Linked DNA regions of Homo sapiens. The protein of the gene in region 2 purifies or fractionates together with the protein of the main gene of each other region. This does not show direct contact. Each region holds a gene or a part of one and is shown on either strand. Other genes may lie near its edges.

Region 1 (7,037 bases), on a different chromosome or scaffold from region 2:
AGCTCACTGCAGCCTCAGTCTTCTGGGTTTGAGAGTTCACTGAAGCCTCCACATTCCGGGTTCAAGTGATCTTCCCAGCTGGGCTTTCCAAAGTGCTGGGATTAGAGTTGTGAGCCACTGTGCCTGGCCTTGGGATTCTTTTTTTTTTTTTTTAACGCTCTCGGATGAGTCATGCTTTTAAAAAGGCCAAGTATATCATGGGTCCACTATGAAATAATAGATGTAATAGCCAGTAATGGTGTGTTAGTAGTCCTAGTTGTGTGTGTATAATTATTAGTAGTTCAAGTTATTTAAATAAAAACAAAAAATTAGAAAGTGTAAGGCAGAAAAGAAAAAATATTCCCTGGGCTGTTCTAGTAGGTGGAGTAATAATACCAAAGAAAGAGAAGATACTGTTGCTTAGTATGTGATAAGGAAGGCATGCTTGATGTTGTCAGTCATTTTAAAATACTTTACTTATTCTTGGTTGAAATGGCCAGTAGCACTTTTTTTTTTTCCACTAGTGTCTTGTATTTCGAAGTTTCAGATGGAGACCTTGGTTCCTTAGAAGTTTGTGGTGTTCAGCCGGGCGCAGTGGCTCACACTTGAAATCCTAGCCCTTTGGGAGGCTGAGGCAGGAGGATTGCTTGAGCTAGGAGTTCAGTACCAGCCTGGCAACATAGTGAGACACCGTCTCTAATAAAAAGTTTGTGATGTTCATAGATTAGATTTTCTTTTTTTTTTTTTTTTGAGACGGAGTCTTATTCTGTTGCCAGGCTGGAGTGCAGTGGTGTGATCTCGGCTCACTGCAACCTCTGACTCCCTGGTTCAAGCAGTTCTTCTGCCTCAGCGTCCCAAGTAGCTGGGATTACAGGCACGCACCACCTCGCCCAGCTAATTTTTGTATTTTTAGTAGAGACAGAGTTTCACCATGTTGGCCAGGATAGTCTTGATCTCCTGACCTCATGATCTGCCCACCTTGGTCTCCCAAAGTGCTGGGATTACAGTCATGAGCTATTGCGCCTGGCTGCTGCTGCTGCTGCTGCTGTTGTTGTTGTTGTTGTTGTTTGAGACGAAGTCTTGCCCTGTTGCTCAGGCTGGAGTGCAGTGGCACAATCTTGGCTCACTGCAACCTCTGCCTTCTGGGTTCAAGTGATTCTCCTGTCTCAGCCTCTTCATCACCTTGGCCAGGCTGGTCTTGAACTCCTCACCTTAGGTGATCTGCCTGCGTCGGCCTCCCAAACTGCTGGATTACAGGCATGAGCCATTGTGCGTGCCCCATAGATTTTCTTACACAGAAGTAGAGAGAATAGGGTAATGAGTCCCTGGGTATACATCACCCAGCTTCAACTGTTCCCACCCTTTTTTTTTTTTGAGAGACAGAGTCTCACTCTGTCACCCAGGCTGGAGTGCAGGGGCACGATCTTGGCTCACTGCAACCTCAGCCTCCCGAGTTCAAGCGATTTTCCTGCTTCAGCCTCCCAAGTAGCTGGGACTACAGGCATCCGCCACCACACCCGGCTAATTTTTGTATTTTTTAGTAGAGACAGGGTTTCACTATATTGGCCAGGCTAGTCTCGAACTCCTGACCTCGTGATCTGCCCGCCTCGGCCTCCCAAAGTGCTGGGATTACAGGCGTGAGTCACCGCGCCCAGCCCCGCCCTTTTATTTTTAGGGCACAGGGTTGGGAGGCTGGCATATTTAAAAGCAAATCCCAGATACTGTCATTTCAAATACTTCAAGCATGTCTGTGATAAATACTTTTTAAAAACTAGAAGGTTTTTTTTGTTTGTTTTTGTATTTAAATGTATAATCTTTCTTTTGCAAGTAATTCTGACACTAAAAAGAAAAACATAAAAAAATTCTTTCTTGCCACCTTTTCTTGATATATCAGTCTCAGATTATAAATTTGTAGCCATGCTCTAAGCTTTGCACAGAGTGAATGCTTTGTAAATATTTAAATAAACTAATTTAGGTATTGAACAGGAATTAACATTTCAGTGTTGCAAACCATAAACCCCCTTTTAGACTCATAGGTAAATATTTTTATACTCTGCTTTTAACCTTTCACTTAACTGTATACTTGAGATAGTGGACTACACCATCTCTATTGTCTCACTGTTGATAATGACTATCATTATCAATGATAATGATAATGAGGTGCTAGTGCTAGTGCTAGTGTTATTCTTTTAGCAGAGAAATAGGCTCAAAGAGCTAAAGTAAGTTGTCTGATGTTATATCCTAAGTGGTAGAGCTGGTGTTCAGGAAGTCCTTTTTGACTTAAAAGACCATACTCTTTCTAATGTACCATGGGTGGTTGTAGCTAAGGACATTAGTCTGTGACTGTTGAGAATGCCATAGGTTTATAAATGTATGCTAAATGGGACACAAGAACAACTGAGTTGTAACAGTGCATTGAAGTATTTGTAGATTTCTCAGGCAAATGCGTTATCACCCAACGCTAATTTAATTAGTCTGAGTGCATCATAAACCGAATTTCTGCTTTATGAAAAGAGTTTCAAATCCCAACTCACCTTAAGCAGGATTTGTACTAGAACACTGGAAGCATTTAGTTGTATTTCCTTGATATTTATATTGAATCCATGGAACATCACAAAAAGTGAACTGAGACTAGAGCTGTCAGTGCCATTAACTAACAAATGACTGTAAGCATTTTCTCTCTCTGCTTCCTGATGTGTTAAATGAGTAGTTGGGGTATACTTTTTTTTTTTTTTAATTTTAAGAGAGACAAGGTCTTGCCGGGTTGCCCAGGTTGGTCTCTAACTCCTGAGCTCAACCGACCCACCCTCCTCTGCCTCCCGGATGCTGAGGTTACAGGCGGAGCCACCACACCCTGCCCCTACAGTACGGTTTCTAAGATCTCTGCTGTCTAACTTATATGAGTCGTTTCCTGTATATATTCTCTGGGTATGTATATATTGTAAAGTTTCTAGGATTATATATGTACCAGTTCCTGATTCCATATTCATTCATGGAGGGAATCAGTGACAATGAATAATTCAAACAGCAATTAATCCAAACATTGTTTGGCTTTAGGATATATTATGATTGTTTTGTTTGAGCCAATATGGAATTTCCTCCTATGCTGTCTGTCTGGTTGGAAGCAATCTAACCACATAATCAAGTCATTATTGATCTTCTATTATACACCTATCATTGTGGAAGGACACTAGTACTTTAAGACACCACCATTGCTTACAGTTGGTTTGATAAGTGAGATTGTTGTGATCGAGAAGCGATTATATAAGAGTGTTAATCACTTGATGTCATACAGATAGTAAATTATTTTAGGGCAGTGTAATAAGACAAAATTAGGATTTAGATTTGGGTGGAACACAGCTCTGCTATTCTTAGCTTGAAATTTCTGTCACTGTTTTTTTTTGTTTTTTTTTTTTTTTTTTTTTTTGAGGTGGAATCTTTCTCAGTCGCCCAGATTGGAGTGCAATGGCGTATTCTTGGCTCACTGCAACCTCTGCCTCCTGGGTTCAAGTGATTTTTCTGCCTCAGCCTCCCGAGTAGCTGGGACTGCAGACATGCGCTACCACACCCGGCTAATTTTTGTATTTTTAGTAAAACGGGGGTTTCGCCACACTGGCCAGGCTGGTCTTGAACCTCTGACCTCAAGTGATCTGCCTGTCTTGGCCTCCCAAAGTGCTAGGATTACAGGTGTAAACCAGTGCACCCGGCCTCTTTTCTTAAGCAAGGACTGTCTACTTTAGCTTTGTCCTTGTTCTTTTTTTTCTTTGAAAGTCTTACTCTATCTCCCAGGCTGGCTGGAGTGCAGTGGCATGATCATGGCTCACTGCAACCTCAAACTCCTGGGCTCAAGCTCTCCTCCCACTTCAGCCTCCCGAGTAGCTGGGACTATAGGTACACAACACCACTTAGCCTTGTTCTAAGCGGAAATATACGTGAACTCATGAATTTGATGTGGTAGGTATACTTCTCTAATATATATGAAACTAAATATATGACTATAAAATATAAGTACCAACACATACCACCTGAAATCATCTTGCATATTACCAATAGCACATGCTTCAGAAAGCACTAACACTGGATTATCTTTCTCTGTTGTTTTTTTGTTTTGTTTTGCTTTTGGTTAAGACGGAGTCTCGCACTGTCACCCAGGCTGGAGTGCAGTGGCGCGATCTCACCTCACTGCAACCTTTGTCTCCTGTATTCAAGCGATTCTCCTGGCTCCACCTCTCTAGTAGCAGGGATTACAGGCACCAGCCACCATGCCTGGCTAATTTTTTTTTTGTTTTTTTTTTGAGACAGAGTCTAGCTCTGTCACCCAGGCTGGAGTGCAGTGGCGCGATCTCGGCTCACTGCAAGCTCTACCTCCCGGGTTCACGCCATTCTCCTGCCTCAGCCTCCCGAGTAGCTGGGACTACAGGCGCCCACCACCATGCCCGGCTAATTTTTTGCATTTTTAGTAGAGACGGGGTTTCACCATGTTGGCCAGGATGGTCTCGATCTCCTGACCTCGTGATCTGCCCACCTCGGCCTCCGAAAGTGCTGAGATGACAGGCGTGAGCCACTGTGTCCGGCCGAGGCTTGGCTAATTTTTGTATTTTTAGTAGAGACGGGTTTTCACCATGTTGGCCAGGCTGGTCTTGAACTCCTGACCTCAGGTAATCCCACCCGCCTTGGCCTCCCAAAGTGGTGGGATTACAGGCGTGAGCCACCGCTCCTGGCCTTGGATTATCTCTTAAGATTCTTCCAGCTCCGGTGCTTTGTGATTTTGTGATCTGTGGGAATACAAAACGTGTGCAAGAGAGTCGTAGCACAGGTGGAAAGGGGAGATGCTTTGGGGAATTATTAAAGGGGCTGTATTGACCGAAATAGAGAACTTGAAAATGTTTTCAGTCCAGGTCATGAAGGGTCGTATATTCACCTCTAGCTGGTTCTCCAAGTAAAGTCCAGAAATGGGATGTTTTTATCCCTACCTCAGATAAAAATATTACAGCAGATAATTGAGAATTACCTGTAAAGTAGCATTGTCGTTTATGGCAAATACTTTTTAAGAAATCTCTTGATGAGAATGCTTTACAGTATATAGTTGCTTAATAATTCATTGTTCTGTAGAAGGAAATAAAATACTTGAACAGTCCAAAAGATGAAATGCTGTATTTCTCTTTTGTGCATTTCTCCTAATGTGTTCAAAACAAATTTACTCAGGAACAATAACAAAAATCTCCTCTTTATATAAGTTATATATATATATATTTATATATTTGTTGTTGTTGTTTTGAGGTGGAGTTTCGCTCTTGCTCAGGCTGGAGTGAAGTGGAATGATCTCGACTCACTGCAACCTCCACCTCTCGGGTTCAAGCCATTCTCCTGCCTCAGCCTCCCGAGTAGCTGGGATTATAGGCACTTGCCAGCACACCCGGCTAATTTTTGTAGAGACGAGGTTTCACCATGTTGACCAGGGTGGTCTCAAACTCCTGACCTCAGGCAATCCACCCACCTCAGTCTCCCAAAGTGTTGGGATTACAGACGTGAGCCACCGCGCCCGGCCTTATTTATATATTTTTAAAAGCAGCAGTTAAAATGGCTTATAGGCTATCATGTAAATTAATTTTTCTTCTTTCTTTTTTCTTTTTTTTTTTGAGATGGAGTCTCATTCTGTCACCAAGCTAGAGTGCAGTGGCGCGATCTCGGCTCACTGCAACCTCCACCTCCTGGGTTCAAGTGATTCTCCTTCCTCAGCCTCCCGAGTAGCTGGGACTACAGGCGCCCGCCACCACGCCCGGCTAATTTTTTGTATTTTTAGTAGAGACGGGGTTTCACCATGTTGGCCAGGATGGTCTTGATCTCTTGACCTCGTGATCCGCCCGCCTTGGCCTCCCAAAGTGCTGGGATTACAGGCGTGAGCCACCGCGCCCGACCAATTTTTCTTCTTTCAGCAAACATTTATTGAAACCTGTGTGCAAGACACTGCTCAGTGTTCAAGTATACTACTGCTACTTATAATGGTTAGCATTTACTGAGGGTTTTCTGTGTGCCCTGTTCTGAGGGACTGGATGCTTTCTAGGCGTTATCTCATTTAATCTTATGAGAGATGTTTTATTATTATCATTCTTATTGATTTTGTTTGTTTGATTTTGTTTTCGAGACAGAGTCTTGCTCTTGACGCCCAGGCTGGAGTGCAGTGGTGTGATCTCAGCTCACTGTAATCTCTGGCTCCCGGGTTCAAGCGATTCTCCTGCCTCAGCCTCATGAGTAGCTAGGACTACAGGTACACACCACCATGTCCAGCTTTTTTTTTTTTTTTTTTGAGGCAGTCTCACTTTGTCACCCAGGCTGGAGTGCAGTGGTGCGATCTCAGCTCACTGCAAGCTCCACCTCCCGGGTTCACGCCATTCTCCTGCTTCAGCCTCCCGAGTAGCTGGGACTACAGGCGCCCGCCACCATGCCCGGCTAATTTTTTGTATTTTTTAGTAGAGATGGGATTTCACTGTGTTAGTCAGGATGGTCTCAATCTCCTGACCTCGTTATCCGCCAGCTTCGGCCTCCCAAAGTGTTGGGATTACAGGCGTGAGCCACTGCGCCCGGCTAATTTTTGTTTTTTTAGTAGAGGCAGGATTTCGCCATGTTGGCTATGCTGGTCTTGAACTCCTGACCTCAGGTGATCTGCTTGCACCACCATCTATCACCGGAGCTTTTTTTTTCTTTTTTCTTTCTTTTTTTTTTTTTTTGAGATGGAGTCTCACTCTGTCATCCAGGCTGGAGGGCAGTGGCATGATGTCAGCTCACTGCAACCTCAGCCTCCCTGGTTCAAGCGATTCTCCTGCCTCAGCCTCCTGAGTAGCTGGGACTATAGGCGCACCCCACCACGCCCAGGTAATTTTTGTATTTTTACTAGAGACGGGGTTTCGCCATGTTGGACATGCTGGTCTTGATCTCTTGACCTGGTGATCCTCCCGCCTCGGCCTCCCAAAGTGCTGGGATTACAGGCGTGAGCCACTGTGCCTGGTGAGTTTTGTTTTGGGTTTTTTTTTTGTTTGTTTGAGACGAGGTCTCACTCT
Region 2 (7,037 bases):
ACAATATTGTACCCAGCCAAATTATCAATCATTTGTGAGAATAGAATGGAGACTTTTTTACACAGAATTCGGAAAGTTTGCCTCTCATACATACTTCTTTTTCAAAGAGTTATTTGAAGATGTACTCCAATAAACAGATCAAGCAGATGCAAAAAAAAAAAAGGAAAAAAAAATATGTATAACAGAATGGATCCAATTCAAGAGTAAGGAGAAAGGAAGTTACAAGAAAAGACCTAGAAGAGTCCAAATGGAGGCAGAGTTACAGACAAATACAGATAAATAGAGAATGCAGCACAAAAGGCAGTATGCTGAAGAGTTGGGGTGTGGGGGGGCTGGGGTGTAGGGGAGGCTATAATAGAGGCATATAGTACAAGAAAAGAGGGCAATTTAAGACACTAAGAAAAACAGGAAGTCCTATTCAAAAACTTTTTTAATTCCAAAGTTAGATTTTGGTCATATCCAAATTTTTTTTTAATTTGATGGTCAGAATTGATAAAATAAATAAAGTCTACTAATTCTCTATATTATCAACATGTTTCTTCTGGCAGCCCAGGGACAGAAAAGGAATAATCATCTAAGCACATTATCTGGCTTAGCATTAAATAATACTTACACAGTCATGGTATCAACACTATTTATTGGTTTTCATAATTTAGAGACAACCTGTGGACATGACAGCTGAGATTACAGGGGAAAAAACGTGTATTTGTTTAGGCCAGGGGTGTCCAATCATTTGGCTTCCCTGGACCACACTGGAAGAGAAGAATTGTCTTGGGCCACCCATAAAATACACTAACACTAACAATAGCTGATGAGCTTTAAAAAACAAAAAAATCTCCTTATGTTTTAAGAAAGTTTATGAATTTGTGTTGGGCCGCATTCAAAACTGTCCTGGGCCGTGCGCAGCTCACCAGCCAGGGATTGGACAAGCTTAGTCTAGCCAATAAAAAGTACAGCTACTGGTTTAGAAGAAATAATCACAAGGTAATAAATGGAAAATTCAAGTAATTTCTAAAGCTGATAAAGAGAAAGGTGAATCAACATTAAGGCTGGGTACCAGGGTTCATGCCTGTAATCCCAACATTTTGGGAGGCAGGAGTTCAAATTCAGCCTATGCAAAATAGCGAAACCCTGTCTGTACAAAAAAAATAAAGTAGCCAGCCACAGTGGCACAAACCTGTAGTCCTAGCTACTGGGGAAGGTGAGGCAGGAGGATCCTTTGAGCTCAGGAATTCTGCACTCCAGCCTGGAGTGCAGGAGACAGGAGGAGACTCTGTCACTCAAAAAATAATACAAACATATATATAGTATATCAAGGAAGAGAGGAAAACACACACACACACACTAGAAACTAGGATGTTTTATAAAAACAACATAGCTTCCTTTATTGGATATACAGAAATGAACTGCTCCCCATGAACCTTACCCAACCCCTAAAAGGGGAAAAAGTTCTTTAATTAAGGATAATAGTTTCTTTCCATTTAAAATCATTTCTTTCAGATTCACTCATTCACTCAATCTTTAAAGCAGTAGTTCTCTACTGAGAGTGACCTTGTCCCCAGGGAACATCTGGCAATATCTTGAAACATTTTTCATTGTCACAATTAAGAAAGATGGTACTAGCATCTAGTGAGTAGAGGCCAGGGATGGTGCTATACATTCTACAATGCACAGGAACACACAACAAAGAATTATCCAGCCCAAAATATCAACAGAGTCAAGTTAAGAAACCCTACTTTAAGAAAACTCTTCAGACTTGTATAGATTTTCTCTGTTCCTCATTCTTATCATGGTGACTGGGCGTAAGATAAAGCTTTCATGGGCATCTGGAGTATTATGATTAGCCTGAATACAGACCCATGGATTGCCCTGGGGATCCTCACAGGCCTCTAAGGTTTGAATATTGGCCCTCACAGAGTCACAATGGCACATGCTGATGAATATGTTGGAACAGTATCCAGAGGATCTCCTAACTTGGCCCCACCCACCTCAGCTCCTGCTGGTACGGATATTATTACAGTCTCGACTACCTCGTCTATCCAGTCCCTGGCTTATACTTAAGGCAACACTAGCTGCTTAACAAATAAACCCCAGATTTTCGGTAGCTTCACACAATTAAAATTTCTCATTAATATTACAATCCATTGTGGGTATTCCTATTTGGTACACAAATTTCTTTCACATGGTAAATTTAGGGACTGTAGAACATTCCAATCTTATGGTTTTACTATCCCTTAAGAGCCTAAACCTCTGCATCTGGCCCTTGAATTAGAAAAGAGAAGGTGAAGAAAGAATACCTATTTTTTCTGCCACTTCAACCCAGAAGTGACAACAAATTGATTTCTATTCACATTCACTAGTGAAAAACTAGTGGCAGGCACAGTGGCTCACACCTGTAATGCCAGCACTTTGGGAGGCTGAGGCGGGCAGATCGCTTGAACTCAGCAGTTAGAGACCAGCCTGGGCAACATGGTGAAACCCCATCTCTACCAAAAATACAAAAAATTTGCCAGGCACGGTGGCACATCCCTGTAGTACCAGCTACTCGGAAGGCTAAGGCACAAGAATCACTTGAGCCCAGGAGGCGAAGGTTGCAGTGAGCCAAGATCCTGCCACTGCACTCTGGCCTGAGCAACAGAGCGATACCCCATGTCTCCAAAAAAAAAAAAAAAAAAAAAAAAAAAATGTTGCAAGCAAGAGGGAGCACAAATTTTTGTGGGCAATGAAATGAATCTGCCCTTCCCACAACCTCTGTCTACTACATGGTCCCTCCCTCACAATAGCAGCCTAATGACAGGCTTCCTGGCTCTCACTCTACTAACTTCTATTTCCTTCACTAGTCATATGTGAGAACATCCAGATCTCTTTCAGACCATGTAAGAACCATGGAAAACTCACAGAGTGCTATCTCTGGCCCCCTCTCTGCTTAAATATGCCATTTTCTTCCCTTTTGGCCACCCCAAGTCAGCATAGGGCCAGTGCAATAGGCTAGTAAGTGGCTGTACCAGTTCTGAACTTTGGCAGTCTGGCTCCAGGGTTCGTGCTATTCTGCCTCTCCAGATTTCTAAAATAGGTGATAAGACAGAGCACTTCCATTACTACCAATGGATATTTGTAAAGCACCTACATCTTGCAAAACAGCCTAGAACTATTACAAACTCCACACTATGATGCACAGCACTGCTTTTCTTTACTTCCAAATTGCTGATCTTACAAGTTATTATAATCATAACAATGCACAAAATTACACACTAAGCAAAGCTAGTCTCCAGAAGTCCCTCATCCTACTCTCCACTTGAACAATGTACCTGTGCCCTCACATCCAAAGCACCCCACCTCATTACTCTACCCGGTAATAATGTTACTTAGATTGAACTTCTCTCTCTCCAGATCTACCATACTTCCATCCCATCAAAATATACCAACATAGATTCCATAATTTCCACATGGGCCCCAGCCTTCCTTGTAAAAAATTATGTAATCTGACAAACTATTCCTGCTAATATGTAGGCATTTGGCAGCCAAAAAGCAAAAATTACCTTACTGGTGGTCATCTCAACAGGACAGATTTCAACTGTACAGATCTGTGTCCCTCAAATATCACTAAATAGGCCTGGCATGGCAGCTCACATCTATAATCCCAGCACTTTGGGAGACCAAGGTGGGAGAATCATTTGAGGCTAGGGGTTCAAGACCAAGCTGGGCAACATAGTGAGACTCTGTTTCTAAAAAAAAAAAAAAAAACTTAAAAATTAGCCAGGTGTGATGGTATTCGCCTGTAGTCCCAGCTACTTGGGAGGCAGAGACAGGAGGATCACTTGAGCCTGGGAGGTCGAGGCTGCAGTGAGCCATGGTAGTGAGTGCCACTGCACTCCAGCCTAGGTGACAGCTCAAGACCCTGTATCAGAAGAAAAAAAAAAAAGGCCAGAGGAGGTAGCTCACGCCTGTAATCTCAACACTTTGGGAGGACGAGGCAGGTGGATCACTTTACGTCAGGAGTTCGAGAACAGCCTGGCCAATATGGTGAAACCCCATCTCTACTAAAAATACAAAAAATTAGCTGGGCATGGTGGCATGCACCCGTAATCCCAGCTACTCAGGAGGCTCAGGCATGAGAATCACTTGAAACCGGGAGGCAGAGGTTGCAGTGAGCCAAGATCACACTACTGCACTCCAGCCTAGGTGACACAGTGAGACTCTATCTCAAAAAAAAAAAAAAAAAAACACTAAAAAAAAATGCATACCAATTCTGTGAATCAGCCTTATTCTTTAAAACTATTTTTTAATTATAACAACTTAGCTTTAAATACTGTTATCTATTATGTTCTTTAATTTCCAGTTACTCCGAAATTCTCTGAAATTCCCCAGTGAGAAAATGGCAACTGGATGAACAATAAAATAAATATTTGCTTTACTCTAAGTATTTTTAAGATTTAAAAATAGGATGTCAGTCAAATACAAGTAAAATGAGAGAAAAAAAATCAAGGCTATATTCCATCTTCTTATAAAGTAAAGTGCATTTTGTAAATGACACAACTAAAACAGACTCAGGAAGATCACAAGGTCAAGACGTATCAAGAGGAGCAACTGCAAATAAATTATACAAGGCAGTATATAATATGATGGTTAAAAGGATAGGCTCCAAAGTCAAAGGTCAGGTTAAACCTCAAGTTTAAATCCTTTTAGTAGGCTCTACCACCTACTACTTAACTTCTCTGTGCCTCAGGTTTAGTTCAAATCCTGGCTCCACCACTTATTTAATCTGTCAGTTGCTCAGGTTTAAAAAAAAGAAAATAGCCTGATTGCGGGGTGGTTGTCAGGATCAAATGTGATGACATGTCAAGTACTTCTAGAGTAGTACAGTACCTGGTATATAGCAGTTGACGCACATTAGCTATTAATATGACCTATAACAATTTCCCTCTGAATCTATCAAGTTTTCAAAAACTCTAAATCAAAAAGCTTCTCCTTTTTATTTGAAAAAAGTCAAGCTCTGAAACCATTTCCTCTTTTTTTCAGTCCTTTTTGAATATGGAAATTAGTAGGTAACTGGCTTATCATTTGATGACTCTTCTTAGTCTTTGTATAATAAAAAGGCTCAAGACTCTTCTTAGTCTTTTTATAATAAAATTCTCTTCCAAATATTATACAAAGGACAGACTGCTCCATGGATCAAAAACACTACAAAGAGTTCACAAAGTATAATGAAATTCTGAGATTCATAAATGAACAGCTACTGGCACAAAAAGCTTAGATAAGAAATAATGCAGATGTCTGTTTGTTTGCTCAAGAAATACTGAATTTTATAATAAAACACAGATGGTAGAGATCTTCATGGCTTATAGTCACATCACTAAAAACAGAAAATATTTTTGGTAAATTTTTTCTTAACAACCAGAAAACCCCTTATTTCATCACAACAATGAATAGATAAATGACATTACAGGCAAAGACAATTTCTTCAAAAACAAATTACGTAGAGAAAAAAAGCTTAAAGGCTCAGATTTTCAGCTACACATATCCCTTACTTTGAGCTTCAAAAATTTGAGGCTTCTAGCACTCCTTGTGGTCTGTAACATTAAGCAGTAATACAATTAGGCCTCATTTCTACCAGAAAACATTAAACTGACTGAAAGAAAATTATCTAGAATTTTGATTCTGATCAATTTAAACATAATGCCATGAGTCATCTAGATGAGTCAAGCAAATATTAGAGTTCATGATAAACGAATCAAAATATGTTTTAAAGATCTGCAGACAAACGTTTTAATAATTTTGTATTTGCTGAAGTCCTCCTATGTGTGACACATTGAGGTAGGCACATTCATATTGAGGTATGCACTTTCACATGCATTATATAACTTTGTTCTCCCAACGATCATGGATTATTATCCTGATTTTACAAATGAGAAAACTAAGACCAAGTGATTGGCCGATGGAAACGACGCTTGTATAAGATTCAGTCAGAACACCAATTCAAATTTTCTGACCCTTATCGTACTTCCAAAACTCAAGTACTGTCAATCTCTGCTGTTGCAAAGCAAGTTAATCTTTTTATTTAGGGAGAGGTGAAAATAGAGATGGGAGAATAAAAATTCTTCATAATGTTACAAAAAAAGACTTACTGTGCTTTATCTGACATAATTTATTCAGTCTGACTTAAATGCTTTGCTGCACGTTGTCTACCCCCTTAGACACTGCTTATCTTCAGACACACAGCCCACACCAAAACCTAACTCAAGAATCACCTCCTCCAAGAAAGTTTCCCAGATTAAATGACCTGTTCCCCTTCTCCCAAGCTAACATCCTTCCTTTATCATTTCGCTGCTTGCATTTAGTTTGGACTACATTATCAGATACTCCTTTTGTTCTCCAGTCATATATCTGGAAGTAGACTTTTTTCATTCATTAACTATTGAACATTTGGAGATTCAATGGTGAGCAAAACAGACAAGGTCCTTGCTATCATGGAGAATTTACATTATCTGGATCTTCGACAAAGGTAAAAATAACAGGGTATAAGAATATGATGCTCTAGGACTAGGATTTCTTCCCTATAAGGTCTCCGAAAATAGCTCTCTCCCTTGCAAGCTTGATAACACTTTTCAGGAAGAAAAATTCCTTCTATCACGCCTTCCACATGAGAATTTTATGACTTTGTGAGGATATGTGAGGGATGGGGACCAAGGTGGGAAGAAAGATCTAAAATCTCTCAGGGGTTTCCCACATACTGCCATGAAATATGCACACAACATGAGTCTAGACATCTCTTCCTGTGTCTCATCACAAGGAAGCTATACTTTGGCCACAACTGCTCCAGTCAAGCACTTCTACTAATCTCCTTGTACCCAGCCACCTTCACTAAAAATTGTATATTTCTCAGAGGCTTTTTGTTTTTTTGGTGTTTTTTGAGACTGAGTCTTGCTCTATCGCCCAGGCTGGAGTGCAATGGCATGATCTTGGCTCGTTGCAATCTCTGTCTCCTGGGTTCATGCGATTCTCCTGCCTCAGCCTCCCAAGTAGCTGGGATTACAGGC

Evidence for each region. Proteins that work in one complex are often made in the same cells at the same time.
Region 1: the proteins of OSBPL8 (region 2) and GLG1 purify together in Homo sapiens (co-immunoprecipitation; 3 studies listed by BioGRID and IntAct, with this or other methods). This does not show direct contact.

Annotation. Positions count from the first base shown.
Region 1 is NC_000016.10:74,597,101-74,604,137, reverse strand, and holds part of GLG1 (Golgi apparatus protein 1 isoform 3 precursor), read left to right. Parts: intron 1-7,037. UniProt on the Homo sapiens protein: Binds fibroblast growth factor and E-selectin (cell-adhesion lectin on endothelial cells mediating the binding of neutrophils).
Region 2 is NC_000012.12:76,549,772-76,556,808, forward strand, and holds part of OSBPL8 (oxysterol-binding protein-related protein 8), read right to left. Parts: intron 1-7,037. UniProt on the Homo sapiens protein: Lipid transporter involved in lipid countertransport between the endoplasmic reticulum and the plasma membrane: specifically exchanges phosphatidylserine with phosphatidylinositol 4-phosphate (PI4P), delivering phosphatidylserine to the plasma membrane in exchange for PI4P, which is degraded by the SAC1/SACM1L phosphatase in the endoplasmic reticulum.